3 separate regions of the Homo sapiens genome follow, and all the other regions are linked to region 2. The links come from fine-mapping of genetic effects on plasma protein levels. A gene starts in region 2. Each other region holds a variant in brackets. All regions are shown on one strand. Distances are between the middles of the regions.

Region 1 (8,181 bases), 32 kb after region 2:
GTGAAATCCTGTCTCTACTAAAAATACAAAATTAGCTGGGTGTAGTGGTGCATGCCTGCAGTCCCAGCTACTCAGGAGGCTGAGGCAGGAGAATCACCTGAACCTGGGAGGCAGAGGTTGCAGTGAGCCCAGGCTGGAGTGCAATGGCGCGATCTCGGCTCACTGCAGGTACTGCCTCCCAGGCTGCGCAACAAGAATGAAACTTTGTTTCAAAAAAAAAGTTTTTCCAGGACATGAGACTTTCAGTACGCAAACCAGAAAGGTCCCAGGCAAAGCAGGATGAGTTGGCCAGCCCACATAGAATGCAGACTTTACATTCATATTAATAATAACATATAAGACTTTAAAGGGATTTTCTGCTTGCAGTTCACTAGTGCTACTGCAGAGGGAACGTTTAAGAAGCACTGACTTCAATGTCCAACCACAGGAAGTAGTTTCATTGGTTCATTCATTCATTTACTCCCCATTAGAGTGCAAGCTCTATGAAAGCAAGGGCTTTTGTCTGTTTGATTCACTGCTGTCCTCCCAGGGCCTAGAATTGTGCCTGGCACCTCAGATGTTCTGTAGATGTTTGTTGAGGGGGACTGTGTGCTGGAAGCCAGCAATACATTGTTCTCTTTTGCCCCATCCTGAGTGGTCCCAGAAGTCTGGCTGAGAAGATGGCTTCTGGGTGGAGGACATCCACTGACAGCGAGTATGGGGCCATCTCAGTGCTGTTAAGAAAATATTTTAATGGCAAGGAAAAATGCTCATGATGGAATGTTATGTGAAAAAGATGGGACACAAAATTATGTAGGTAGTGTGAGTCCAGATTGTTTAACAGTGTTTAAGTGGTCAGCCATGGTGGCTCTCACCTGTAATCCCGGCATGTTAGGAGGCCGAGGTGGGTGGATCACTTGAGGTCAGGAGTTCAACACCAGCCTTTCCAACATGGTGAAACCCCTGTCTCTACTAAAAATACAAAAAGTAGCTTGAGGTGGTGGTGCATGCCTGTAATCCCAGCTACTCAGGCGGCTGAGGCAGGAGAATCGCTTGAACCCCGGGAGGCGGAGGTTGCAGTGAGCCTAGATCACATCACTGTACTCTGGCCTGGGTGACAGAGCAAGATTCTGTCTCAAAAATTTTTTTTAATTAATTTTAAAAAAGCGTTTAAGCATTAGAATAGATGAGAATGGGACATAAAGTATGTCGAAGGTGGGAATCCATTGGTGAATTCTTTTGAATTTTTAAATTCTTCTTTTTTTTTTTTTTTTTTTTTTTTGAGATGCAGTCTCGCTTTGTTGCCCAGGCTGGAGTGCAATGGCATGATCTCAGATCACTGCAACCTCCGCCTCCTGGGTTCAAGTGATTCTCTCACCTCAGCTTCCCAAGGAGCTGGGATTATAGGTGTGCGCCACCATGCCCGGCTAATTTTTCCATTTTTAGTAGAGGCAGGGTTTCACCATGTTGGCCAGGCTGGTCTGGAACTCCTGACCTCAAGTGATTCACCCACCTCAGCCTCCCAAACTGCTGGGATTACAGGCATGAGCCACCGCACCTGGCCTAAAATTCATTTTTCATTTTTTATTCAGCCTCTGCGATGCCCTGCCAGATGTAACTCTGGGAGTTGAGATCCTGTGGTGAACCAGGCAGATAAGATCCCTGCTATCGTGGGACAGGTAGGATTTTATAATTGGAGGGAATGAAACCCAGAGTAAAGGAGCAAAGTTATTTTTTTTAAAGACTGATGAAATTCCGGATGTGCTGAAGAACCAGCTGGAAGCTTGTAGTTAGGGGGCTGTTCCAGCAGTAGGGCAGACTCGGGAGTGGGGGTGAGGGCTTGTTTAGAAAGAAGCAGGAAGCCAGAGAATGCCTCTCAACCCACACCCATTGTGTGTACTCTGGTAAGTCCCTTCTTCGGTCTTGGCCTCAGTTTCTCCATCTGTTAACTGAGAGAAGGCACTAGATGTGTGTGTTTATCTCTCTATTATTCAAATCAGAGAACTTAAAAAATTTAATTGACAAATACAAATTTATACATTTATAGTGTGCAATATAATGTTTTGAAATATGTATATATTGGCCAGGCACGGCGGTGCATGCCTGTAATCCCAGCACTTTGTGAGGCTGAGGTGGGCAGATCACATAAGCCCAGGAGTTCGAGACCAGCATGGGCAACATGATGCGACCCTCTGTCTACAAAAAATACAAAAATTATCTGGATGTGGTGTTGCACACCTGTAGTCCCAGCTACTCGGGAGGCTGAGGTGGGAGGATGGCTTGAGCCCGGGAGGTGGAGGTTGAAGTGAGCTGGGATCACACCACTGCACTCTAGCCTGGGTGACAGAGTAAGACCCTGTCAAAAAATAAAAAATAAATAAATAAATAAATATGTATACATTGTGGAATGGCTAATTGGGCTAAGTATGCATTACCTCACATACTAATTTTTTTGCAATGAGAACAGTTAAAATTTACTTAGCGATTTTGAAGTATACAATACATTGTTAATAACTATAGTGACTGTGTTGTACAATAAATCTCTTGAATTTATTCCTCCTGTCTAACTGAAATTTTGTATCCGTTGACCAACATCTCCTCAATCCCTTCTCCTGGGCCTGGCCCCAGCCCCTGTTAACCACTGTTGTGCTCTCTGCTTCTATGAGTCCGACTTAAAATTTCACATAAGTGAGATCATGCAGTGTTAATCTTTCTGTGCCTGGCTTACTTCAGTTAACGTAATGTTCTCTAGGTTCATCTACGTTGTTGCAAATGACAGGATGTCCTTCTTTTTAAAGGCTGTATAGTATTCTATTGTGTATATATCACAATTTTTTTGTGTTGTTGTTTGTTTGAGATAGAGTTTTGCTCTTGTTCCCCAGGCTAGAGTGCAATGGTGCAGTCTTGGCTCACTGCAACCTCCACTTCCCAGATTAAAGCAGTCCTTCTGTCTCAGCCTCCCAAGTAGCTGGGATTACAGACACCCGCCGCCATGCCTGGCTAATTTTTGTGTTTTTAGTAGAGAGAGCGTTTCACCACGTTGGCCAGGCTGGTCTCGAACTCCTGATCTGAGGTGATCCACCTGCCTTGGCCTCCCAGAGTGCTGGGATTACAGGCGTAAGCCACTGTGCCTGGCCATCACAATTTCTTTATCCATTCATTCCGTGATGGACAGTTAGGTTGTTTCCATATCTTGG[C/T]TATTGTGAATAATACTGCAGTGAACATGGGAGTGTAGATATCTCTCTGACTTACTGATTTCATTTCTTTTGGATATATAACCAAAAGTGGGATTGCTGGATCGTGTGGTAGTTCTATTTTTAGTTTTTCAGGAACCTCCATATTGTTTTCCATAATGGTTGTACCAGTTTACATTCCCACCAGAAGTGTACAAGTGTTCTCTTTTCTCTACATCCTCACCAATACTTGTAAAAAGTATAAACACTTACAAAAAGTAAAAAAATTACTTTTTATGAGGCTGGGTGTGGTCGCTCATGCCTGTAATCCCAGCATTTTGGGAGGCTGAGGCGGGCAGATCACCTCAGGTCAGGAGTTCGAGACCAGCCTGGCCAACATGGTGAAACCCTGTCTCTACTAAAAATACAAAAATTGACCGGGCATGATGGCGGGTGCTTGTAATCCCAGCTACTCAGGAAGCTGAGGCAGGAGAATCGCTTGAACCTGGGAGGTGGAGGTTGCAGTGAGCCGCGATCGTGCCATTGCACTCCAGCCTGGGCGACAAGAGCGAAACTCCATCTCAAAAAAAAAAAAAAAAAAAAAAGATTTAAATGTTTTGTAGAAATGGAGGCCTCGCCATGTTGTCCAGGCTGGTCTTGAACTCCTGGGCTCAAGCAGTCCTCTTGCCTCAGCCTCCCAAAGTGCTGGGGTTACAGGCATGAGCCACTGCACCCAGCCAACACTTGTCTTTCATCTTTTTTTGTTGTTGTTGAGACGGAGTTTCACTCTTGTTGCCCAGGCTGGAGTGCAATGGCGAGATCTCAATTCACTGCAACCTCTGCCTCTCGGGTTCAAGCAATTCTCCTGCCTCAGCCTCCTGAGTAGCTGGGATTACAGGCATGAGCCACTGTACCCGGCCCATCTTGTGTTTTTTAATAACTCTCCATTCTGCTCTCTTCCCAGCCCCTGGCAACTACCATTGTACTTTCTGTCTCTACAAATTAGAGTACTCTGGGTACCTTGTGTAAGTGAAATCATACAGTTTTTGTCCTTTTGTGTCTGGCTTATTTACTTAGCATAACATCCTCAAAGTTCAGCCATGTTGCAGCATGTGTCAGAATTTCTTGTCTTTTTAAGGCTGAATGGTATTGTATTGTATATATATACATGAGATGGCTTTAGAGCTTTCTTCAACTTTGAGGTTGTAGGAGTCTCAATGCCAGGTCTCCGTTGTTCCTCAGTGTGGACTGCTGCCTGTAGGGTGAGTGGAGGCCCTGGCTTCAGAAAGACTTTCCTTCCTGCTTATGTCACCAGAACCTTCCCTGAGCCCAGAGGTCCTGGGAGACCCTGGGGAGGGATCCGAGGAATGAAAGGCTTTGGCTAAACACCTGCTGCCTTCTCTCTGAGGCTTCAGCAGCTGGGTCAGGGTTGGGTGCTGAGCAAGGGTGGGGGAGTTAATGATGGCCTGCCAGGGACTTGGTTGTCCAGATGAAACGGGCCTTGCTCTGAGGCCTGGCCTGATTACAGGGAGCCCTGCGCTTGCCCTCCCCAGGGCCCAGGCCTGGCCTTGCAGCAGCCCCTGCATGCCCAGCTGTTCTGGAGCAGCTGCAGAGGTAGGTGGAGCTGAGGAATTTGGGATAGCAGCTGCCAAAATGCACTGGCTTTGGGATCTGGCACAAGAGATACAACTCATGGTGAAGCCAGCAAGTTCATGCCGGTTCTCATCTGAGGGCTAACTAGTAGTAACAGTCACTGTTGCTTCAAGTTTTAATATGTTCACCGCATACCAAACACTGGGCATGAATTATCTCAGTTAATTGTCACACAGCTGTAGGAGGTTGGTATCGTTGCCCCCATTTTACAGATGAGCAAGCTGAGGCTTGGAGAGCCTTGCCTAGGTCTATGCAGTTGGTAAATGGCCCAGCTGGAATTGGGCCCTGGTTATGTGCTGAAGGCTGGTTTCTTGTCCACTGCTTCTGTGACTCGGTGGGACATTCTTTGGCCAGCTTCTTAGTGGAGAGTGGGTGAGGGGCCAAGATCCACCTGCCTTCCCCACATGGGCCAGGAGAGCTCCTCTTGTAGCTACTTAGGGATTCTGCTTCAAAACATTATTTGAAAGCCACTGTTAATAGTTCAACCTATTTATTTTAATTTATGTATTTTTTTTTTTTTTGAGATAGGGTCTCACTGTATGCCCAGGCTGGAGTGCAGTGGTGCAATCTTGGCTCACTGCAACCTTTACTCCCCAGGCTCAAGTGATCCTCCCACCTCAGCCTCCCGAGTAGCCGAGACCACAGGTGTGCACCACCATGCCTGGCTATTTGTATTTTTAGTAGAGATGGGGGTCTTGCCATGTTGCCCAGGCTGGTGTCGAACTCCTGAGCTCAAGCGATCTGCCTACCTAGGCCTCCCAAAGTGCTGGGATTTCAGGTGAGAGCCACTGCTCCTGGCCTCAACCCATTTATTTTACAGATAGAGAAACAGGCCCAGAAAGGGGCAGAGAGCTGTCTAGGGTCATTCTAACAGGGTTGGTGGCTGAGCCAGGCCCTGCCTCTCAGCCACCTGCTGTTTCTGGTGCCCACCTGTCTTCCTGGATTTTGTATGTGACCTCCCTAGGCAGGAGGGCACTCTGGGGCCTCCCCTGCTGGGTCTGCTGGGCCTGGAGCCCATTCTGTAGGACCCCTGCAGGCCTTGGCTGGTGGACAAATGACTGAAGGAGGGAGATGCAGGGCTGGCAGGCAGTAGGGGCAGAGATTAGAACCCAGGCTGGATCTCAGGCTGGCTCTGGGCTGACTTGTTGTGTGGCCTGAGTGGCTGCATTCTCTCCAGGCCTCCATTTCTCCATCTGTCCAACGATGGGGTATTGACCACTTGGGCCCACAGGCACTGAGCAGGGGAGGATGAATGGTCCCGACAGGAGATATAAATGTATGGGGAGGAAGAAAGGAGCCGCTGGGCCCAGGAGGGCTGTGGACATCCTGCCTTTGCCCCATCCTCCTCCAGGAAACAGCCTCCCACACTCTCGCTGCTGGCCGGATGACGCCGCTTGGCCTGAGCGTGTCCAAGCCTCAGGTGACAGAGTTCCTGGTCCCTTATGCTGCCCTGGGGCTGGTGGCTGCCCTTCCTCGATCCTAAGACATCCTCCTCACCTCAGAGTGGTGCTGGCCTCAGCGGGGCTTGGAGGAGGCTGAGCTCTCTGTGTGGGCACTCACATGGGTGTCAGCCTGACCCACCCACGTGTGCTCACATCCCTGACACGTGCACATACATGCAAACCCATACACGCACCCTGCATAGTAGGGGCTCACAGACGGAAAGAGCCAGGCCACTTCTTTTTTTTTTTTTTGAGACGGAGTTTCGTTCTTGTTGCCCAGGCTGGAGTGCAATGGTCTGATCTCAGCTCACTGCAACCTCCACCTCCCGGGTTCAAGCGATTCTCCTGCCTCGGCCTCCCAAGTAGCTGGGATTACAGGCATGCGCCACCATACCCGGCTAATTTTGTATTTTTTAGTAGAGGTGGGGTTTCTCCATGTTGGTCAGGCTGGTCTCAAACTCCCGACCTCAGGTGATCCGCCCGCCTTGGCCTCCCAAAGTGTTGGGATTACAGGCGCGAGCCACCGCGCCCGGCTGAGCCAGACCACTTCTGTCTTTTAAGGCTCCTGCTAATTTAAAAATGAAGAAAGTCCTAAATAGGATGTTCACAACTGTGGTATGTTTTTATTTAACAAATTAATGTTTTTTAACACACACATGCACCCACACACATCCAATGCAGTGCAACTGAGAGACTCACAAGATCGTCACAAGAATTATAAAAAATGTGATTTCACATTGCTGTGTGGTCCAGTGATGGGATGTAAGTTTCAAATGGCATGAAGAGCATTCTGTTCTTCCCATCTCATCCATAATTCTCTGGGGCTAGACATCCAGCCCACTTTGTGTACTCGTTGTATTATGAAAAGTATCAAGCATCCAGAAGGGTTGAAAGAATGGTACAGTGAGCACCCACATACTCAGCACCTGGGGACTACAATGAACATTTTGCAGTATCTGCTTTATCACATATCCATTCCTCTGTCCAACCCTCTGTCCATCTCTCTGCACAGACAGCCCTCTGCCTATCCATCTACCTAGCCATCCATCCCTCCCTCCCTCCCTTCATTCCATCTCATTTTTGGATGCATTTTTGAGACTTCTGAATGTGAGGCCTGGGCCAAATGGCACTCTCTTCTCTCCTTTGCAGTAACAGGCCCTGCCACACACACAAGCATACCCCCACCTCTACATGTAAACCCCACCTGCGTACACACCATATATGACTTACCCATGTCCCCACATTTATACATGCACATTCCATGCACATATTCACATAACCACACACGCTCATCTGTGCACATATACCTAAACACCCCCCCCTCCCCAACACACACAAACTGCCCACATATACACTCACAGAAGACCCTGGACATCTGTAAGGAAAGCATCTGGAGACCTTTGGGAATCCTCAGACCTGTGACTGTCGTGGAGCCGGTGCCAGGTCCTGGCTGTCTCCTCCATACATTTCTGGCAAGTGCCAGAGGCTCCCTTGAGCTACCTACCTCAGATGTCCTACCTTTTCCACTCTTACCCATCTTCTCTCTCAACCCCTAGTCACTTCCTACAAAGGAAACGGATTCCTTCCAGAGTGTTACTGTTATGGGAAGCAAATCCCACAGACCATCCACTCCATGCAGGCTGGGACTGTGTCTGCCCTATCCACACTGCATTCCCAGCTCCTGGCCCCCTGTGGCTAAGTGTTGATTGGAAAAAAGTCACCAGAGCAGCACAGAGGCACATACACTGGGCAGCCACAGGGGTACCTCCACCCCACACAGTTACGTCCATGCACACAGAACACCCTGTGTGTGTGTGCATGCTCAAGCTTGCATCACTGTGTGCCTGCACACATATGAACACGCATCGTGTCTGCCTGTCTCCATACTTTCCAGATAGAGTCCCTTCCAGGACCTGGGTCCTTTCACAAAATCA
Region 2 (8,166 bases):
GATGATTGTGGTAGGCTTGGTCATGCTGGCCACCTGCCTGGTAGCAAAACCCACACCTGAGGGTAGGGGGAAGGTTATGAGTATATGAGCTGGGGTAGAGAAGCAGTGTACAAGAAACTCAATGAATAACTCTCAGGCCTGGGTATGGGGAAGTGGAGGACTGTATCTTTCAAAGCCTTTGCATGGGAATTTTAAAATTCAGTCTTGCGCTTAGTTCTGTTTGGTGAACACAGATAACTGATCCCATTAGATGAGAGATACTTAAGGAACAGCAGTGCCATAGCAAGTCAGTGGCAGAGCTGGGATTAGAATAAGCTACTATTGGGCCAAGTGTGGTGGCTCACGCCTGTAATCACACTTTGGGAGGCCAAGGCAGGCGGATCACATGAGGCCAGGAGTTTAAGACCAGCCTGGCCAATATGGTGAAACCCGTCTCTACTAAAAATACAAAAAATTAGCCAGATGTGGTGGTATGTGCCTGTAATCCCAGCTACTCAGGAGGCTGAGGCTGAGAATTGCTTGAACCTAGGAGGTGGAGGTTGCAGTGAGTCGAGATTGTGCCACTGCACTCCAGCCTAGCCAACAGAGTGAGATTCCACCTCAAAAAAAAAAAAAAAGCTACTATTAAGTACTATGAGCTTTTTGTGTAGTAAGAACTGTACATGTTATCTCATTTAGTTCTTCCTGTTCTTCTGAAGACTGTTTCCACGTTACAGATACAAAAACAGAGGTAAAGCCCAGGGTCACAAATCTGAGATTGAAGCCCAGAATTGTCTGAGTCCAGAGCTTGCTTAAGTGCTCAGCTATACTACCTCCCAAGGCTGGAGCATAAGGCTGCCTTCCAGGGCACCTGAAAAGCTCTCAAAGCCTTAGGAATAAGGCTGAGGAAAGAAGAGAAACATAGACTTTCCCTTCCAAAGCCTTAGGCATAGGAGTTTTCCAACTTTGGAAGTTTTTACCCTGAAACTAAGAAGTGTTAGTGCTCTTGTCCCTTATACATGGCAACCCATCATTTTCAAAGCCTGTTATCTATGATCTAGGAGTTAGGTACAAAGGAAGTATTTGTCCTATTGTGCAGATTCAGGAGGAGCCTAAAGCGGTAGCAACAATGAGTTAGACTCAAACCCGTCTCCTGACTCCCAGTCTAAGGCTTTACAGAGACTCTCTTCCTGACCCAAGCATGGCTTCCTTGGGTACTGGGCAAAGTCCTAAGTGTCCTGCAACCAAGTAAAGAACAAAGAACTAATCATGACTGCCCCCTCTCCCCCCAGCAGCTTAACATTGAACTGTCTTCCAAGGCAAAGGTGAGGCAGGAGGCAGCCCAGTGTAGTGAGGTGGTGTGTGTAAAGTCTCCAAATGTACCTGGCTACATAGTGCTTGCTGGAAGCTAGGTACTCTGCACATGCCCTACATGGGTTGTTTTACTTAATGCTTGTAACAGCCTCGAAGCGTAGATTATCCCCAGTTTACAATGAAGAGTGCGAAGTGTCTTGTCGAAATTCAAAGAGAATAAACTACTGACATAGATTTGAACCTCGGCTCCAAAACTGTTGACTATTTTCACTGGGCGATTCTGTCCAGCACATACTCAATCCAGGCCAGCAGTTGTGCCTGTGGTCACTGGTACTAGACGGGACCTCTTTGCCCCTTGAGAGCCCTAGGTCTACAGCAGGAGGGGCAGGGGCTGCCTCTGCTGTTATGCTGTCAGCCCACCCTTGCTTGGCCAGTGAGGAACTTGGCATTGCCCCTTGGTATCAGGATGAGTCAGGCCAATCACACTCCCTTGCACAGAGCAGGACCTTGTCACGGCACTGGGAGCTCTGTTCACTTAGGATCTACCCAGAGGTATGGAGTGTTTGAAAAGGAAACCACTGCGGGATGAGTGAGGGTCTGAACCAAGAGAAACTAAGAATATTGAGCTGACAGAATTTAGGAGACTCAGGGAGATCTGGGTTCTACTTAGAAATGAAGCCAGCACTACTTACTGAGAGCTGAGGAGGGTATTTTCCCAGGCTTTCCATTCCTACGATGAGAATGCTGGCTGCCTTAACATAAGCTGCTGAAAGATAACAGGACTTCAGGGAGACCAGCCCGCTGACCCAACTCGGGGCAGAATAAGGGAACAAGAATGGTAAAGTTGTTGCAGCTCAATTCAAGACTCAGCTCTGGCCCAGCTTTGGAAGGAGGAACTAAATCTGGGCATTCCAACTTCCCAATAGCTGCTGGGCTGTGTTCGTGGGGGCTGGGGGCTGCTCCTCTAAGAATGACTGCCTGCCTAGAATTACTGGGCATAGCGCCCAAGATAGGGTAGAGGCCGTTGAGAGCTTTGACCTCTCCATCTAAGCCCAAAGCAGTAGAAGAAGGGCTGAGGTCAATCATTAGCTAAGCAGTTTCTACTTTTCTTCCCACTCGCAGGGCCTGTAGGGTAGTGGGAAGAGCTCTGGGTTACAGATCTAGAAACCTTAGATTTTCATATTGGCTCTGCTGTGGAATTGTTATAATACATTTCTACTCTCCTGGTTTCAGTTTCCCTGTTGAACTAGATGGTATGGGAATCTCCAAGTTCCTCACCTGTGAGATTCTTTGAATCCTGATTCTTCTCCATCCCAACACCACAGCAGTTCTCCACATCCTCCTAAACCAGTGATCCTCCCTCCCAGGTCTTGACCTTGCCTTGGGACCCTCTACTGCACATCAGAAGTCCAATGGCTTTCTCTGCCTACCCCTCGCACAGATAGGTGAGCCTTGGGTTGCAGGAAAGGCCCAGCTGATCATGGGCCTCTTGCCCCACCCTACCACGAGGCTCACAGACAGTGATGAAGGCCTGGATACATAGACTGCAGGACAAGGTCAGACTGGCTGGTGAGAAAGGGCATTCTCCAGCAAGAATTCTCTTCCCTAACCAAGCAGAGATGGGGATTGCTGCTTACTGCAGGTTCCTGTCTTACGTCCTTCTCATATCTGATTCACTGATCCACAGTTTTTTCCCCACTAATCTTTTTCCTCCTAGGTATTTCCTACTTGTTTACATCATTGTACACTCCCTGGCTGCCCCATTCCCTTTCTGGGTTCAGTCTCCTCCAATTTCTAAACTACCCATGCCCCTGTTCTTTTTCTCCCCTGGCTACACTCCCTTTCCTGTGATCAGTGTTCTTTATCCAAACCCTCCTCCTACCTCCAAATCACATATCCCTCTTCCTGGAAAGAGCCTCCCACACAGCTGCCTCCTTCCACCACCTCCCTACCGTGGTCTCTAACCAGATTTGGACCACCAAAGCCCCCTCTGAACAGGCCCCACCTGCTCTAGGCCAGGCTGCCATCTCCGCGCTCCCCTATTCCCCAGTCTTAACCAGGAGGGATGCGGCAGGAGTGCTGCGTGGGGCTAGGCACGCCACCAGCCAGTCCCCAAGCCAACATCCTGAGCCCCGCGGCTTGCTCACCGAGTGACTTCATGTAGTCATCGAAATTCTTGCTGTCCACTAGCTTCCAGGTGCCCAGGAAAGCGTCCACCATAGTGATGCTGGGCTAGGCTGAGAGAAGCTACAAGAGAGCAGGCGTGCAAGGGCTCCGACGGCGGCTCCCTGCCCGGGCTGCCGCTTTAAATAGCCCTCGCATCACATGAGGAGACGTGGCCCACGCCCCCGGCTCCCGAAATAGGAAGCCCCAGGCTAGGGCTCACCCAGGAGGGGCTGGTGCGCCCATCCCCCAACCCACCGAGGTGGGTGGGGACCAGCCAGTGGCGCCCTGCTAGCCTGCGTCAGCGCCAGTGCCTGGCCCCCGAGTCCCTACCCCAGGCTGGTAGGACCTTCTCCCTTTCCTGGCCTCTAGGCACTCTGGAATCTGAGAAGGAAGCAGCCAACACCAGCCCGAGAGCTAGGGCGCATGCCATGGTGGATATCTTCCCGTCCCCCAGTCCCTCTTTGAGCTTAGCGTCAGAGCAGAGATGAGACTAGAAAAGCAAAACGCCCTTGGGCTGGTGCCCACGCCGGGGAAAGCTCTGGTTGACTTCTGGCACGGGCATCTGTCCTCGTTTTACAAGTGAGGAGTCCGAGGCTCACAGGGGAACTGACAAGGTCTCAAGAAATAGGAGGGGGTGAATGGAGCTCAGATTGCAAGCTTAGTCTAGCGGGCTTCAGAGCTCGCGCTCTCCCTTCACTCTCACTGCCTGGTGGCGGAGACAGTCACCAGCGGCTCGGTCTGCGGCTGAGCTGACCTTGTCCTCTGCCTGTTTTGAGCAAAAGCCTGACCCTTCGCGCCCCGCCCGCCTCACACGTGCTTGCCCCTCCCTGCGGAATGTCTCCTGCTGGCCCTCCTCCGTCCCCACCCCACCCCACCATCTAGCTCCCCACCCGCCCCTGCAAGTGCTCTGGGCTTTTCCGGTTTCTTCGCACAGCTCCGAGCTTTAGCTCAGGTCGTTCCCAGCTCCCCTCCTGCAGAAATTCTGCCAATTCGGTCAGCTCTTCAAGGCCCATGGCTGCCTTCCCCACCTGCCGCCCTTTCTTTGGCCTGTGCACACTAGCAAGCCGCCTGCACTTTTGGGTAATTTGCTGCCTCCTTTCGAGAGCCTGTTGTGCGGTGGTTTGTCACTGTATAGTTTACTAAGCACTTTCAGTAAAAATAAGACCTGCCTTGTCTTGCTATTTATTGCATGCTGAGGGCTTTGGGTGTATTGTTTCATTGAACTTTTTATTTTATTATTATTTTTTAGAGACAAAGTCTCTCGCTGTGTCTCCCAGGCTGGAGTACTGTGACGCCATCATAGCTCACTGCAGCCTCAAACTCCGGGGCTCAGGGGATCCTCCTACCTTAGCCTCCCCAGCAGCTGGGACTATAGGCACACGCCACCACACCTGGCCTCATTGGACTTTTAAAGCAAAATCCATGAAGTAGGTGTTACTGTATTATTTTCTCTTTTTAAAAAGGTGAACAAGTTGAAGCTCTGAGGAGCTCACTCATTAATTCAGCAGTTAATAAAGCACCTACTTTGTGCCAGGCCCTGCTTTGGAGAGAGACAACAGGGAACAAGACACACATTCACCTCTGGGCAGCCAGACATAAAACTAGCGTGGTGCCTCTAAAGGGAGTCCTGTCCTGTCCTGACCTGAGGGCCCAATGTAGACTTCTCAAAGGAAGTGAGGTATAAATGAATTTCTGAGGGATGGCAGGAGGCCCTGCACACCAAGGAGTAGTGCCGAACTGAATTTCAGCCAGCAGCAGCCTGTCCAGGGTGGGCCTGCAGGAGCCAACACAGGAGCCCAGAGGCCTGCCACGTGCGTAGAGTATGGCAGGCCCTCCTTCCTGGGACTCTGTTTCTCCATGTGCAAACCCTGCCTCCCTTCCCTGGACTGTTCTGAGAACAAGGCCAGGGAGGAAGAGCCCTCTCCCCACCCTAAGATCTTGATTCCTTTGGACGGTCCAGTTGCCAGAAGACTCAGAGGCTCATTTCTGCCAAAGCTATAGGGACAGGCTTCAGGGCTGGGCATGGAGCCTTGGTGATCTCACTGTTGGAACAGGTGCCAGGAGAGGAGGAGGGGGAAAAGATGATTTCTGACTCAAGGTCGCAGCCCTCACACATAGGGCCTCCTCTCAAGGACTGTGTGGCCAGGAACTAGAACTGACTCCTTATGTGGCCCTTGTAATGCAATGATGGAGAGCTGGGGCTGGGCTAATGGCTGCTGGCAGATCTGCGTTCTGATCTGAATTTTGTTGGGTACTAGCTGTGTGGCCTTGGGCAATTCACTTAAGCCATTCTGAGTCTCCATTTTTTTTTTTTTTTTTTTGAGAAGGAGTCTCGTTGCCCAGGCTGAAGTGCAGTGGTGTGATCTTGGCTCACTGCAACCTCCACCTCCTGGGTTCAAGCAATTCTCCTGCCTCAGCCTCCCAAGTAGCTGGGATTACAGGCAACTGCCACCACATCTGGATAATTTTTGTATTTTTAGTAGAGACGGGGTTTCGCCATGTTGGCCAGGCTGGTCTTAAACTCCTGACCTCAGGTGATCTGCCCACCTGGACCTCCTAAAGTTCTGGGATTACAGGCATGAGCCACCACGCCAGCTTCAGTTTCATCTTTAAAATGAAGGGATTTTTTTTTGGAGATGGAGTCTTGCACTCTGTCACCCAGGCTGGAGTGCAATGGTGTTATCTCAGCTCACTGCAACCTCTGCCTCCCAGGTTCAAGTGATTCTCCTGCCTCAGCCTCCCAGGTTCAAGTGATTCTCCTGCCTCAGCCTCCCAAGTAGCTGGGACTATAGGCGCGGGCCACCGCGCCAGGCTAATTTTTATATTTTTAGTAGAGACGGGGTTTCACCATATTGGCCAGGCTGGCCTTGAACTCCTGACCTCAAGTGATCCGCCTGCCTTGGCCTCCCAAAGTGCTGGGATTACAGGCATGAGCCACCACGCCTGGCCTATTTATTTATTTGGAGAGAGTCTCACTCTGTCACTCAGGCTGGAGTGCAGTGGCATGATCTCAGCTCATGGCATTCTTGACCTCCCAGACTCAAGGGATCCTCCCACCTCAGCCTCCTGAGTAGTTAGGACTACAGGCGCATGGCACCACGCCTGGCTAATTTTTTGTGCATTTTTTTGGTAGAGACAGGGTTTTGCCGTGTTGCCCAGGCTGGTGTTGGACTCCTGGCCTCAAGCAATCTGCTTGCCTCGGCTTCCAAAGTGCTGAGACTACAGGTGTGAGCCACGACACCTGGCCCGAGATAATACATTTAAATGCTAAGCATGGTTGACTTACGAAAGTTCACTGCTGCTGCTCCTCCTGCTGCTATTGTTATTGTCTCCAGGGATAGTGCAGACACCTAAGACCTAGTCTGAGCTCTGCCACTACCTACTGAGTTAGTTACCTGAGGCAGATTGCTTTGCTTCTTTAATCCTCAGTTTTATTATTTCTGGGACAGGATTAGAAAGGGCTTCAACTGAAAAAGGGGCTATAGAGGTTTTTCAGAATGGGTTGGGGTGGGGTCACTGCCAGAAAATCCATTTGCTCCCTCTCTTGGGCCTGTCCAAATTGAGCAGCACGGGGCTTTGAGGAGCTCTACTCGACAAACCTCAGACCAACTACCCTCACTGCCCTTCCCTCACCTCGCCATGGTGCTCAGACCTGGGTCACCGAGGTTAACCCATAAGCCACACCCCATCTCCTTTCCTCCTGGTTTACACCCTTCTCCCTTCTAAGTATGTACAGTTCTCTCCTCATCCCTCTGATCTACCTGCATCCTCTTCCTCTGTTATGCTGACTACATTTGGGGAAGAATGTGAGCCCTGTCCCTTTTTGTACTCCTCTGTCTTGCCCTTGGCAGATCCAGATGTGGATATAACATCTGGCAGGCAGCAAGACCAGCGCCTGCCAAGAACAGCATCTCCCCAGCCCTCATCCTATGGTGAGGTCACTGTTCTATGTTTCCACGGCAACCACAGGCTGGGAAGATGGAGAAGAGGAGAGATGAGTAACCAGAAGCCAGCCAATGAGATGAGCTGCAGCACCGGATGATCCATGGGGCCATGGGGAGCGGGGACAAGGGAGGCCTGCTCAGCATGTTCAGCTGTTTCCTGGACCCTCCCTGCCATCTGGATGCCTCCACTAGAGAATGTGCTACTAGCACCAGGAAAGAGCTAGAGGCTGAAGAAGCTGAGTAGAAGCTCTGCTGACCCAAGAACATGGCCCTCCTTTTTTGCCTCTTCAGGGTCTAAGTCTATGGTTGCTGACTACCCCCGCCCCATCCCACCCCTAATATCTGCAACTGGGAACTTTTCCCATTTGCTGGGAATGATGGTGGGGCTCTTTCTGCCTCTGCCTGCCATAGAACCAGCAAGTCTTAGACATCCCTTCTTTTTATGCCCTTGGTCCATGGGGTCTTTGTTACCAGAAAGGGGTCCCAATCCAGACCCCAAGAGAGAGTTCTTGCATCTCACACAAGAAAGAATTCGGGGCAAATCCGCAGAATAAAGTAAAAGCAAGTTTATTAGAGAAGTAAAGAAATGTCTGTTTAGTAAATTATTAACCTGTTCCCTTAACTCTTAACTGTAAACATTTTGTGACTAAGAATGTTTCACCTTGTGGGAATGCATCCCAGCCAGGTCTCAGCTTCATTTTATCCAGCCTCTATTCAAGATGGAGTCACTCTGGTTAGAATGCCTCTGACATCTTCAGATGCA
Region 3 (8,172 bases), 120 kb after region 2:
TTATCATTGTTCTCTACATATCTAGTGCATGGAGACTATTTGTGACACTAGGTGCTCTTGTTCTCTGCCTTCTCTGGGGTTCCTGGAAGCCCTTCCTCACCTGTTCAGAATAGTCCAGCTCCTTCCCACCCTTGCACATCCCATTTAGTAGAGTGAAAGCCTGCATTGCCATCACTCAAGTAGGCCCTCAAGGGACCCACTCTGCCTCCAAGTGACTTTTCAATGTTTCCTTTGTGATATGGTTTGGCTGTGTCCCCACCCAAATGTCATCTTGAATTGTAGATCCCATAATTCCCATGTGTCATGGAAGGGATCCAGTGGGAGGTAATTGAATCATGGGGGTAGGTCTTTCCTATGCTGTTCTCATGATAGTAAATAAGTCTCGTGAGATCTGATGGTTTCATAAAGGGGAGTTCCCCTGCACATGCTCTCTTGCCTGCTGCCATGTAAGACGTGACTTTGCTCCTCATTCATCTCCCGCAATGGTTGAACTAACTTACATTCCTACCAACAGTGTACAAGCATTCCTATTTCTCCACAGCCTCACTAGCATCTGTTGTTTCTTGACTTTTTAATAATTGCCATTCTGACTGGTGTGAGATGGTATCTCATTGTGGTTTTGATTTGCATTTCTCTAATGATCAATGATGTTGAGCTTTTTTTCATGTTTCTTGGCCAATAGATGTCTTCTTTTGAGAAGTGTCTGTTCATATCCTTTGCCCACTTTTTGATGGGGTTGTTTGTCTAACTATTTTTTTACACTCATCAACCATACCCACCTCCCCCACCAGCCCTCCATTACCCTTGTCAGCCTCTGGTAACCATCCTTTTACTCTCTATGTCCGTGAGTTCAATTGTTTTTGATTTTTGTTTAGATCTCACAAATAAGTGAGAACATGAGGAGTTTGTCTTTCTGTGCCTAGCTTATTTCACTTAACATAATGATCTTCAGTTCCATCTATGTTGTTGCAAATGACAGGATCTCATTCTTTTTTACAGCTGAATAGTACTCCATTGGGCATATGTACCACATTTTCTTTTTCCTTTCATCTGTTGATGGACACTTAGGTTGTTTCCAAATCTTGGCTGTTGTGAACAATGCTGCAATAAACATGGGAGTGCAGATATCTCTACCATATACTGATTTCCTTTCTTTTGGGTATATATCCTGCAGTGGGATTGCTGGATCATGTGATAGCTCGATTTTTAGTTTTTTGAGGAACCTCCAAACTGTTCTTCATAGTAGTTGCACTAATTTACATTCCCACCAACAGTGTACCAGGGTTCTCTTTTCTCTACATCCTTGTCAGCATTTGTTATTGCCTGTCTTTTGGATATAAGCCATTTTAACTGGGGTGAGAGGATATCTCATTGTAGTTTTGATTTGCATTTCTCTGATGACTAAAGACGTTGAGCACCTTTTCATATGTCTGTTTGTCATTTGTATGTCATCTTCTGAGAAATGTCTATTCAGATCTTTTGCTCTTTTTGACTGGATTATTTGATTTTTTTTCCTATAGAGTTGTTTGAGATCCTTATATATTCTGGTTATGAATCTCTTGTCAGATGGATAGTTTGCAAATATTTTTTCCCATTCTGTGGGTTGTCTCTTCACTTTGCTGATTGTATCCTTTGCTGTGCAGAAGCTTTTTAACTTGTTATCCCATTTGCCCATTTTTGCTTTGGTTGCCTGTGCTTGTGGGGTATTGCTCAAGAAATTTTGGCCATAATAATATCCTGAAGATTTTCCCCATCCTATGATATTTTAATCCTCCTTAAAACTCAGTGCTCCAGGAAGCTTCCTGACTGACCAATGCCTGGGTCCAGTTATTTTATTTATTTATTTTGAGATGGAGTCTCGCTCTGTTTCCCAGGCTGGAGTTTGGTGGTGTGATCTTGGCTCACTGCAATCTCCACCTCCCAGGTTCAAGCGATTCTCCTGCCTCATCCTCCAGAGTAGCTGGGATTACAGGTGTGTGCTACCACACCTGGCTACTGGGTCTAGTTCTGATCACCTCCCACTGTTCCCTGTAAGTAAAGTGAACTTTTCCAAAGGAGGCATGTATTGAGCTGAATGGGTTAACTGATGCTGCAGTAACAAACAACCCTCACATTTCAGTACTTAAACTAATAAGGTTGTGATTGCCTCAAACTATATCCCTATGAAGGGAGAGAGCTGGGGGCCCTGCTCTCTGCTGTCCCCACCCTAGGAACTGGGCTGATAGAGTAACCACTGGCTGCTGACTGCTTCTGCAAAGGGACAGAGCGCATGGTGAATTAACACTGGCTCTTAAAGCTTCCTACTGGCGGTAACATCACTTTACTCACATTTCATTAGCCAAAGCAAGCCACGTGGCCATATCCCATTTCAAGGGGGAGGAATATAATAGACCTTATTATTGCCAGAATGTTTGCTGTCCCCACCTGTGGAAGGATTATAATTCTTTCCTCATTAACATCTGGCCTAGCCACATGACTTGCTTTGGCTACTGGTCTTCAAGTAGAAATGTGCCATGAGGGACTGACTGCTCCCTTAGCCTGAGTCCTGGAGATGATGGAACAGAGCAAAACTGATCCACATGGGAACACTGCATGAGTGAGAAAGAAGTCTTTGTAGTTATAAGCTCCTATGATTTGGGGATAGTTTGTTACTGCAGTATAACTTAACTTACACTGATGGCCTCAGTGGGGAAGTATAATTTTACCCCGTGATCAAGAGGAGACTTGGAAACGGCTAATGGGCAGCACTCATGACGAGCACATAGTGCCATTTGAATTGAAAACTGGAGAGAATAGCAGCTGGCTAGGCTGGAGGGAAAGGGTTTCTGAAAGAAGGACGCATGATTGCAGAGGTTTGGAACAGAGAGGGATGCAGTAAGTGGTGGGTATATGATAGGAAGGGTAGACTGGCAGGGACAGATGCCATCTGTTCTCTTGAGATTGACTGTTAGGTTTGGCCTGCATCAGACCCAGATCTAAGGTCACCTTTGAGATGACTTTTGTCAGTTCTGGTAGTAATTTGATTTGGATGAGGTCTTACCCCTCTCTGACCTTACAGATGCCTCTCTTAAACAGGCATAATAATAGTCACTTCTCAATGTTGTTGTGTGCTGAGACCAGTTCGGTCGGGGAGACCCTAACCCAGTGGCTCTAGAGGAATTAAAGACACACACACAGAAATATAGAGGTGTGAAGTGGGAAATCAGGGGTCTCACAGCCTTCAGAGCTGAGAGCCTCGAACAGAGATTTACCCACGTATTCATTAACAGCAAGCCAGTCATTAGCATTGTTTCTATAGATATTAGATTAACTAAAAGTATCCCTTATGGGAAACAAAGGAATGGGCCGAAATAAAGGGATGGGTTGGGCTAGTTATCTGCAGCAGGAGCATGTCCTTAAGGCACAGATCGCTCATGCAATTGTTTGTGGTTTAAGAATGCCTTTAAGCAGTTTTCCACCCTGGGTGGGCCAGGTGTTCCTTGCCCTCATTCTGGTAAACCCACAACCTTCCAGCGTGGGCATCATGGCCATCATGAACAAGTCACAGTGCTGCAGAGATTTTGTTCATGGCCAGTTTTGGGGCCAGTTTATGGCCAGATTTTGGGGGGCCTGTTCCCAACAGTTGTGAATACTATTCAATGAGTTAAGCACTGGTGGAAGAAGCCTGGGGTCTGGAATCAGACAGACCCATGTTTGAATCCTGGCTCTGCCACTTACTGACAACCATGGAAATTCTTCATTTTAAACATCTGTAAGCCTCTGATTTTTCATCTGTAAAATGGAGATGATGATTAGTGCTTCATGGGATTGTTATGAGGATGATAAGAAATAGTGAAATTATGCAATGCATAATTTATAAAGATTCCATATTCATTAATCCAACATGGGAGTCATAGAAA[T/C]GTTGGACCTGGTTTATTTTTCTTCTGATCCTTGCTACAAAACAGATGATAGTTTTTATACATTTAAGGCAAAATAACATTGGCATCTTATTTTTGTGAAATATCTCCCTTAAGGTGAAGCTTCAGATATTGCACATAAAGAAGACCTTTAATAGCATAGTTAAAGAAAAACTGAAGTATTTTTTACTTTATTCACATGGCCATCCCAGGGCCTAAAGGGTCTAACCCCCATTGTTGGCTAGTCACCCTTGAATTCCAACTCCATGCTTAGTTCATAGGATCAAACTTGTTGCTTTGTTTGTAGTGATGTTCCAGAAGAAATGAGGATATAATCAGGCAGAATGAGCTGAAAACTATTTACCCACCAGAGCTCTGCACAAGCCGGTCACAGCCCTCTGAGAAAGATAGAGCTGTCAGAGCCATTTGCTAAGAACTTTCTGCTAACATGTGTATCAGGCAGATGAGGCCAGGAACAGTCCTCTAACCCCAGGGATTTCAATTAACACGGTTTAAACTAAGATCTTTACTTAGATTATCTCATTTAATCCTCAAAACAATGCTGGTATCAAACACTAACATATTAATTCCATTTTTCAGATGAGGAAATGGAGGATCAGGAAAGGTGACATAATTTTATTAGAAGCTGGGATTCAGAAGAAGAACACAATCTCTGCATTAAATAACTTATTAAGGTTTTATAGTCAAGGGAACTGAAACCTGAGTGGCTTATTCAGGCCACAATATCCTTTTAGTTAATCCCCAGGTGTCCTAACTCCCAGGAAGAGCTGAGTTTTATATTTATGAATATACACAAATTATAAATCAGGTGCCACCAAACCTGATGATCTTTCACAAGTGTGATCTCTTGTGTCACATCCAAGCTTAGAAAGTAATTCTTTTAAAGATACTTTAGTCAATTCTCTCTCTCTTTTTTTTTTTTTTTTTGAGATGGAGTCTTGCTCTGTCACCCAGGCTGGAGTGCAGTGGCATGATCTCTGCTCACTGCAACCTCTGTTCCCTGGGTTCAAGCGATTCTCCTGCCTTAGCTCCTCAAGTAGCTGGGACTACAGGTGTGCGCCACCACGCCTGGCTAATTTTTTTGTATTTTTAGTAGAGACAGGATTTTGCCATGTTGGCCAGGTTGGTCTCAAACTCCTGGCCTCAAGTGATCTGCCCTCCTCGGCCTCCCAAGGTGCTGGGATTACAGGCATGTGCCACTGCACCTGGCTGATTTTTTAAATCCCAGCACTTTGGGAGGCCTGGAATCCTAGCACTTTGGGAGACCAAGGCAGGTGGATTGTCTGAGCTCAGGAGTTCGAGATCAGCCTGGGCAACATGGTGAAACCCTGTCTCTACTAAAATACAAAAAATTAGATGGATGTGGTGGCGGGTCCCTGTAATCCCAGGTACTCAGGAGGCTGAGACAGGAGAATCGCTTGAACTCAAGAGGCAGAGATTGCAGTGAGCCGAGATCATGCCATTGCACTCCAGCCTGGGAGACTGAGTGAGACTCTGTCTCAAAAAATATATATATATATATAATATATATATTATATATATATAATATATATATTATATATATTATATATAATATATATATTATATATATTATATATATTATATATAATATATATATTATATATATATTATATATATTATATATAATATATATTATATATATTATATAATATATATAATATATATATTTTATATATATTATATATAATATATATATTTTATATATATTATATATAATACATGTATATATAATATATTTTATATATATTATATATAATACATGTATATATAATATATTTTATATATATTATATATAATACATGTATATATTATATATTTTATATATATATTTAACTTTTTTAATAAGAGAATAACTGGTGATCCTGGACCCCCCTGGATGGATGCAGAGATTGTGCAATCTGTTTTTTGTTTTGTTGTGTTTTGGTTTTTTTAATTTAATTTTTTTATTATTATACTTTAAGTTCTAGGGTACATGTGCATAACGTGCAGGTTTGTTACATATGCATACATGTGCCATGTTGGTGTGCTGCACCCATTAACTCGTCATTTACATTAGGTATATCTCCTAATGCTATCCCTCCCCACTCCGCCCACCACACAACAGGCTCCGGTGTGTGATGTTCCCCACCCTGTGTCCAAGTGCTCTCATTGTTCAATTCCCACCTATGAGTGAGAACATGCGGTGCTTGGTTTTTCGTCTTTGCAATAGTTTGCTGAGAATGATGGTTTCCAGCTTCATCCATGTCCCTACAAAGGACATGAACTCATCCTTTTTTATGGCTGCATAGTATTCCATGGTGTATATGTGCCACATTTTCTTAATCCAGTCTATCATTGATGGACATTTAGGTTGGTTCCAAGTCTTTGCTGTTGTGAATAGTGCCACAATAAACATACGTGTGCATGTGTCTTTATAGCAGCATGATTTATAATACTTTGGGTATATACCCAGTAATGGGATGGCTGGGTCAAACCATATTTCTAGTTCTAGATCCTTGAGGAATTGCCACACTGTCTTCTACAATGGTTGAACTAGTTTACAGTCCCCCCAACAGTGTAAAAGTGTTCCTATTTCTCCACATCCTCTCCAGCACCTGTTGTTTCCTGACTTTTTAATGATCACCATTCTAACTGGTGTGAGATGGTATCTCATTGTGGTTTTGATTTGCATTTCTCTGATGGCCAGTGATGATGAGCATTTTTTCATGTGTCTGTTGCCTGCATAAATGTCTTCTTTTGAGAAGTATCTGTTCATATCCTTTGCCCACTTGTTGATGGGGTTGTTTGTTTTTTTCTTGTAAATTTGTTCGAGTTCTTTGTAGATTCTGGATATTAGCCCTTTTTCAGACGAGTAGATTGCAAAAATTTTCTCCCATTCTGTAGGTTGCCTGTTCATTCTGATGGTAGTTTCTTTTGCTGTGTAGAAGCTCTTTAGTTTAATTAGATCCCATTTGTCAATTTTGGCTTTTGTTGCCATTGCTTTTGGTGTTTTAGACATGAAGTCCTTGCCCATGCCTATGTCCTGAATGGTATTGCCTAGGTTTTCTTCTAGGGTTTTTATGGTTTTAGGTCTAACATTTAAGTCTTTAATCCATCTTGAATTAATTTTAGTATAAGGTGTAAGGAAGGGATCCAGTTTCAGCTTTCTACATATGGCTAGCCAGTTTTCCCAGCACCATTTATTAAATAGGAAATCCTTTCCCCATTTCTTGTTTTTGTCAGGTTTGTCAAAGATCAGATGGTTGTAGATGTGTGGTATTATTTCTGAGGACTCTGTTCTGTTCCATTGGTCTATATCTCTGTTTTGGTACCAGTACCATGCTATTTTGGTTACTGTAGCCTTGTAGTATAGTTTGAAGTCAGGTAGCGTGATGCCTCCAGCTTTGTTCTTTTGGCTTAGGATTGTCTTGGCAATGCAGGCTCTTTTTTGGTTCCATGTGAACTTTAAAGTAGTTTTTTCCAATTCTGTGAAGAAAGTCATTGGTAGCTTGATGGGGATGGCATTGAATCTATAAATTACCTTGGGCAGTATGGCCATTTTCACGATATTGATTTTTCCTATCCATGAACATGGAATGTTCTTCCATTTGTTTGTATCCTCTTTTATTTCATTGAGCAGTTGTTTGTAGTTCTCCTTGAAGAGGTCCTTCACATCCCTTGTAAGTTGGATTCCAAGGTATTTTATTCTCTTTGAAGCAATTGTAAATGGGAGTTCACTCATGATTTGGCTCTCTGTTTGTCTGTTATTGGTGTATAAGAATGCTTGTGATTTTTGCACATTGATTTTGTATCCTGAGACTTTGCTGAAGTTGCTTATCAGCTTAAGGAGATTTTGGGCTGAGACGATGGAGTTTTCTAAATATACAATCATGTCATGTGCAAACAGGGACAATTTGACTCCCTCTTTTCCTAATGAATACCCTTTATTTCTTCCTCCTGCCCGATTGCCCTGGCCAGAACTTCCAACACTATGTTGAATAAGAGTGGTGAGAGAGGGCGTCCCTGTCTTGTGCCAGTTTTCAAAGGGAGTGCTTCCAGTTTTTGCCCATTCAGTATGATATTGGCTGTGGGTTTGTCATAAATAGCTCTTATTATTTTGAGATATGTCCCATCAATACCTAATTTATTGAGAGTTTTTAGCATGAAAGGCTGTTGAATTTTGTCAAAGGCCTTTTCTGCATCTATTGAGATAATCATGTGGTTTTTGTCTTTGGTTCTGTTTATATGCTGGATT

Which allele goes with the higher level. Alleles are on the strand shown, and positions count from the first base shown. The strength of an association depends on the size of the effect and on how common the allele is.
As copies of T replace C in region 1, the plasma level of the protein whose gene starts at base 3,575 in region 2 goes down (moderate association).
With allele C in place of T in region 3, the plasma level of the protein whose gene starts at base 3,575 in region 2 is higher (strong association).

The links. PIP is the chance, under the fine-mapping model, that this variant and not a neighbour inherited with it causes the effect. Protein levels are from antibody-based Olink assays in UK Biobank. Linkage for the fine-mapping came from a reference panel and not from the study's own genotypes, which makes the PIPs less certain.
Region 1: its variant is fine-mapped to the plasma level of the FABP3 protein (UK Biobank, PIP above 0.99).
Region 3: its variant is fine-mapped to the plasma level of the FABP3 protein (UK Biobank, PIP above 0.99).

The regions. Positions count from the first base shown.
Region 1 is chr1:31,401,028-31,409,208 of GRCh38, forward strand. No RefSeq gene overlaps it. Among named protein-coding and RNA genes, the nearest start is that of SERINC2, 8.1 kb to the right of the region's middle. The variant C/T (reference allele first, on the strand shown) is at 3,177.
Region 2 is chr1:31,369,502-31,377,667 of GRCh38, forward strand. FABP3 (fatty acid binding protein 3) reads right to left here and starts at 3,575. Exons shown (of 4, transcript NM_004102.5): 1 at 3,441-3,575; 2 at 1-56. The coding sequence starts at 3,513. It overlaps LOC124903892 (a long non-coding RNA gene), which reads left to right and starts at 4,798. Exons shown (of 2, transcript XR_007065573.1): 1 at 4,798-4,886; 2 at 7,311-7,986. RefSeq lists silencers at 3,761-4,055, 7,301-7,595.
Region 3 is chr1:31,489,340-31,497,511 of GRCh38, forward strand. No RefSeq gene overlaps it. Among named protein-coding and RNA genes, the nearest start is that of LINC01226, 25 kb to the right of the region's middle. The variant T/C (reference allele first, on the strand shown) is at 3,900.